Regions from separate parts of the Homo sapiens genome. Here region 2 is linked to region 1. A link means that fine-mapping ties the variant in region 1 to the plasma level of a protein whose gene starts in the linked region. Region 1 holds a variant in brackets. A gene starts in the other region. All regions are shown on their reverse strands.

Region 1 (2,908 bases):
TGTCTTCTGTGCCCTCACAGGTTTTCTCTTCCTCCCTTTCAGATCTGCTGAATCCCAACCTTCTTGCAGGCATCCACTGCGCAAAAAGGATTGTGTCCGGAGCACGGGGGATGAACAACTGGTGAGGAGGACACGGTGGGACTCAGCGGGCAGAGCCCCACGAAGGAGGACGTGACAGAGAAAAGGGCAGTAGGCAAGGACTCACGGGCACGCCCTTGCAGTGTCTAGAAAGATGTGGGATAGCGGACGGGCTTGGAACTCTGAGATCTGGTTCTTCTATGATATTGTATTAAACAAAACTCTTCTGGTTGCAGTAACAGAAAACAACTTGAGCTAGCTGGGGGAAATTTATTCTGAGAGGCCCAGATGTCTCACTGAGCCCACTCAAGGGCTGCAGCTGGGCCTCAGGAAGAGCATGGAACCAGGGCTGGAAATTGTCAGCACACTGTCCATGGCAGGTTTCAGCTTCTCTTGGTGCATTTGCTTCACTTCTCTCTCCGCAGACTTTCTCTGCTCCACAGTCTAAAGGACAAAGGGTGCTGCAAAGTTAATAAGCTAAAGTCCTAAGCAACCATAGGGACTGGCTAGGCTCAGTCCCAGTCCAAGTTCCTGGGATAGAGAATCTGATTGGTTCCACTTGGACCATGTGTGCCCCCTTGGTCCAATCAACTGTAGGGATGGGAGGAGTTAAGCAATACAATTATGGCTGCCGCTCGGGCCCTGTGGCCATAATTGACAATATTTTTTTATTTAAAAATGTGGACCGGGCATGGTGGCTCACGCCTGTAATCCCAGCACCTTGGGAGGCTGAGGCAGGTGGATCACTTGAGGTCAGGAGTTCGAGACCAGCCTGGTCAACATGGTGAAGCCCCGTCTCTGTTAAAAATACAAAAAATTAGCTGGTCATGGTGGCGCCTGCCTGTAGTCCCAGCTACTCAGGAGGCTGAGGCAGAAGAATCGCTTGAACCTGGGAGGTGGAGGCTGCAGTGAGCCGAGATCGCGCCACTGCACTCCAGCCTGGGCGGCAGAATGAGACTCTGTTTAAAAAAAAAAAAAAATGTGGCGGCTGGGCGCAGTGGCTCACTCCTGTAATCCCAGCCCTTTGGGAGGCTGAGGTGGGTGGGTCACAAAGTCAGGAGTTCGAGACCAGCCTGGCCAATATGGTGAAACTTTGTCTCTACTAAAAAATACAAAAATTAGCCAGGCGTTGTGGTGGGTGCCTGTCCCAGGCTGCTTTTTGTGTTATGTGGGGATGAGGCACTGACCCTGTGGGCCGGGATCTCTCTGGGGACCTTTCCCTTGCTTTCTGTCCATGCTCCTTAAGGCAAGCTGCATGGGAGGCTGAGGCAGGAGAATCGCTTGAACCCGGGAGCCAGAGGTTGCAGTGAGCTGAGATCGCGCCACTGCACTCCAGCCTGGGTGACAGAGAAAGAATCCGTCTCAAAAAAAGAAACAAAAAACGACAACAAAAAAATGTGGCATTCATCAGCTGGGCAGACACCCACATAGCTGTGAGCTCACCAACGGTGGACATTCAGATAGTCACCTTTTCTGAGCTTCAAACTAGATATATAAGTAACACAAATGGCTGCCTCTACAGGCAACTGTGGAAGGAGTCAAATCCC[C/T]TGCATACTCAAAACACCACAGAAAAGAATTGACAGCGATGATTATGCTGATCCTTTCTGGAGGGAGAATCAATGGTTGTACCTGGGACTTTTTTTTTTTTTTTAATAAGTAACTCTCAGCCCTGTAAAACAGTGCTCACCCCTTCAGGGAGATATGAGGATTTTAAAATGTGGAAACGTTGATCCAGGGAAGCAGGCAAACACCAGAGATGAGAGAGTTTTACAGGATTCGTCAGAGGGGACAGTGGAGGACAGACCAGAGGGCTAGCTAGCAATGACGGGGATTCTGGGCGTTGCTCCATATGCGAGACTCACCAAGAACTGGGTCATGTGTGTGGAAGAGTTACTGAGTGTGAGGCAAGAACCATGTCTTTTTTCTCCGCAGGGTAGAATGGAGGTTGCACTGTTCAGGCCGGCCACTCTTCTACTGGCTGACAGGATGCCGCCTGAGATGAAACAGGGTGCGGGTGCACCGTGGAGTCATTCCAAGACTCCTGTCCTCACTCAGGGATTCTTCATTTCTTCTTCCTACTGCCTCCACTTCATGTTATTTTCTTCCCTTCCCATTTACAACTAAAACTGACCAGAGCCCCAGGAATAAATGGTTTTCTTGGCTTCCTCCTTACTCCCATCTGGACCCAGTCCCCTGGTTCCTGTCTGTTATTTGTAAACTGAGGACCACAATAAAGAAATCTTTATATTTATCGAAATATTAAAGCACTCGCTCTGCAAAGACTGTGTCCATTTATTCATTAGTCTACATATATTTGAGTACCTAAGACAGTGGGAGTGTACTAGGTAGTAGAAGGAAGACAAAACACAGCTATTGTTGTTTAGGTGTTCATAATCTAGGTGGAGAAGCAGAGACATCCACAAACATTACAATAGGTAATTAAATGTATAGTAAAATCCATAATTATTGCTTTGAAACAGTATCAGCATCCAAGTAATTCCTCCAAAGAACAATTTTTGAAGTAAAAGAGAAAACTCAGAAGTAGGCAATGGGTGGGGTCTGGTATTGATGTGGAGAAAGTAGTGATGGGATGGAGAAATAGTGGCAGATACCAATAATTTGGGGGTGCTTTGGGAGAATAAGCTAGGATCTAGATGATTAAAAAAAGGTGCTCTGGACAGGATCTGGTTTGCCTGGAGGGTGCTGAGGTGGAGTAGAACATGCTTAAAGAAAAGGCAAAATCAGAAAAGTGACAGTTGAAGGAATGTCCTACACATAGCCACCGTCAGTAGTGTCTGACCAATCTGGGGTTTTATCTTGGACCACTTAT
Region 2 (2,908 bases), not on the chromosome of region 1:
TCTGTAAAAGGAAAATAATGGTACTACTTTGCAGGAATGCTGAGGTTTACAAATAGCATATGCCAAGTATCTGGCACATGTTAGGTGCAAAATAAATGGTTTTGCTTACACTTAGATAAAATGACTTTTGTTCTATGAAATGGAGCTAATGATTAGGTTTTATGGAAAGGCTTTATTTATTTATTTTATGATTAGGTTATACAAAAATGCTTTATTTCACCTGGAAGCTTACCTGGGTGTCATTTTATGGTTGTCTCATCTGACCATTTTTAAACCATGGTTGGATCTTGTGGAAATGTTTAGAGCTCGTTATGAAGCCAATGTAAACAAAGGTACCTATCAGCTGTTGCAGACACTATCCCATCCACAGGGGCACCCCTGACATAGCTGTAGCCCAACTTCACCCTGAAGTCTTGGAAAGGTTACATGATTCAGACAGATGTAGTAGGCATGAGATTACAGGCCAAGAGGAAGAGGCCGGGGCTGTAGGCAGTATACTTGACAGGCTCATACACTGCAAGCCTTGTTCCGGGCCCCTTACAAAGCACCTCTTTAGGATGAAAACAAGATGGTCTTTGTAAATAAAAGTTCATGCATTTGGGTAATGAAGTCATTTTCCAGCGCTGCAGTGAAAGATATTCTTCTCCCAAGCCCTCTGGGTGAGGACTGGAGGGAGGAAGAGGGGTGGCCAGTGAATCTGAAGAGAAGATATTAGCACAAAGAGTGCAACAGTCTATCCCCCAGAAAAAACCCGAGAAACCTTGCTCAAGAAAGTGGGCACCCTGACCCTCTGCCTTCAGAGATCATCTACCTTTGGTTCCTGCCCTGGAATCCCTTTTCCACCCACTTTCCTGCAAACTAGCGGGGGCCACATAAAATATCTATGTAAATATAGATAAGACATCCGGTACCTTGACTACATAAATAAGAGTGGTGAGGAAGCGTCACAAAAGCTGAATATTCTTCTGGAGCCCTTGGAGGGGCTCCAAACTGAGAGGGGAGGGAAGACCGCAGGGAAAGGCGGACCTCAGTGTCTGAAAAGCCAGCTTAGAGTGGGAGGGCCTGGGAGTAGAAGGTAAAAAGGGAGTGGTGAGAATGAATGTGAGAAGGAAGCCAGGACAGCGCAGTCCCCAGTCCCGAACGGCCAGGGAGAGGAGGTGGCCTAGCGCTGGCGGGGCTCACCCCAATCCGTCTGCCTTTTGATGCCGTACTGTAAGCTCCGTCCATCTGTAGGTTCTTGAGCCAGAACCTCTGCGGGAAGGAGAAAAAGTGAAAGAGGGAGAGGGAGAGGGAGAGAGAGGGGGAGAAGGGGAGAGAGAGAGAGGGAGAGAGAGGCTGGAACTCTCCCTTACTCTCGCACTTTCCCTTTATTTCCTAAGCTGCTGGTTGCGCAGCCACCTCGGGATACTGCACACGGAGAGGAGGGAAAATAAGCGAGGCACCGCCGCACCACGCGGGAGACCTACGGAGACCCACAGCGCCCGAGCCCTGGAAGAGCACTACTGGATGTCAGCGGAGAAATGGCTTTGAGCTCAGCCTGGCGCTCGGTTCTGCCTCTGTGGCTCCTCTGGAGCGCTGCCTGCTCCCGCGCCGCGTCCGGGGACGACAACGCTTTTCCTTTTGACATTGAAGGGAGCTCAGCGGTTGGCAGGCAAGACCCGCCTGAGACGAGCGAACCCCGCGTGGCTCTGGGACGCCTGCCGCCTGCGGCCGAGGTACAGTGTCCCTGCCATTGCCACCCTGCTGGGGCACCTGCGCCCCCGCGGGCTGTGCCACACTCGTCCTTCTCTCTCTCTCCGCCTCTTTCCTCTCCCCAGTGCCTTGAGAGTTTCACCTGGGCTAGGTCAGTTCGGAAACTTGAAATAAAGAGTTTTCCTTTGTAAGTTGCATTTGGATGTTGAGAGTTGAAAGTTGAGGCTTCGGAATGTGTCTGCTCAAAGGGGTGAGAGTGCATGTGTTGGTGCTCTGAGTTCATCCGCTAGACTCTCACCGGGGACTGCAGCAGCACATCGGTGACTTCTGCCACTTGCGTGTCCCAGTAGTCATTTTGTCAAGCCACGGCACTTAACGTGTGTGCCCTGTCACTGGCTTCCTGCTCCTCTGTGCTGTTAGGACAGTGGGAACACTACTGCAGGATCTTTTTGTCTCATATTAGACAAGAAGTCTTCTGCAGCAGGGAAGGTGAGGGGGTGAGTGAGAGTGGCTGGTCATGAAAGGAGCTGTTAGACAACTGCTGAGAGGGTATCTTAAGTAGAAACGAGCCATTGTATTCCAGAAACAAGATGTTTCCATTAAAATCAAGCCTCAGGATATGCTATTGATAATATGTTTATTCAAAGAGCTGCTGTTTGAATACCTTACAATAGCTTTTAAGTTGGAAACAAAACCAGAATGTAGAGGTCTGGTAAAGGAGAATGAATCCAGAACAAGTGATTTAAGAACCCCTGAACTGAAACAGACAACAGCATGCCCATTGCATGGGACATGCTAAGAGGGAGGAAAATAAAGTCACCTAAGTTCATGGGAAAGGAAGGAGCAATTGACCTAGCAAAACAAACACCACACTCTATAGCTATGGTTACAGCAACTGTACAACTAAAACAGTTATGTGGATTGACACCATTTCTAACATCACTGATGCATGGATTATTGCTATGAATTCTGTTAATTGTTAGTACAATTATAGTTATTAATTATTGATGATTAAAAATAAGGTGCATGAACATGGTCCTTCTTCAGAGTAAGCCCTACCCACATTGCCCCAAAAAAGAGAGTGGACAGGGTCAGAATATGCCAACCTCTCACTGTGGTATAAAATGTAGCCTCCATGAAAAAGAGGGAGCATGGCTTCTGGTCAACTTCATACCCAGAAACTTGGGGAGAAGCCAGACCAGGAGGGACTTCATGC

Direction of the effects. Alleles are on the strand shown, and positions count from the first base shown. The strength of an association depends on the size of the effect and on how common the allele is.
For the plasma level of the protein whose gene starts at base 1,104 in region 2, allele T in region 1 goes with a lower level than allele C (strong association).

The links. PIP is the posterior inclusion probability: the model's chance that the variant is causal. Protein levels are from antibody-based Olink assays in UK Biobank. Linkage for the fine-mapping came from a reference panel and not from the study's own genotypes, which makes the PIPs less certain.
Region 2: it holds the start of LAMA4, and the variant in region 1 is fine-mapped to the plasma level of the LAMA4 protein (UK Biobank, PIP above 0.99).

The regions. Positions count from the first base shown.
Region 1 is chr17:35,933,968-35,936,875 of GRCh38, reverse strand. LYZL6 (lysozyme like 6) reads left to right here. Exons shown (of 5, transcript NM_020426.4): 4 at 43-121; 5 at 2,011-2,358. The coding sequence ends at 2,080. Among named protein-coding and RNA genes, the nearest start is that of RDM1, 4.6 kb to the right of the region's middle. The variant C/T (reference allele first, on the strand shown) is at 1,626.
Region 2 is chr6:112,252,763-112,255,670 of GRCh38, reverse strand. It overlaps LAMA4 (laminin subunit alpha 4), which reads left to right and starts at 1,104. Exons shown (of 39, transcript NM_001105206.3): 1 at 1,104-1,212; 2 at 1,380-1,715. The coding sequence starts at 1,521. All of the region lies in intron 2 of LAMA4-AS1 (LAMA4 antisense RNA 1), which reads right to left.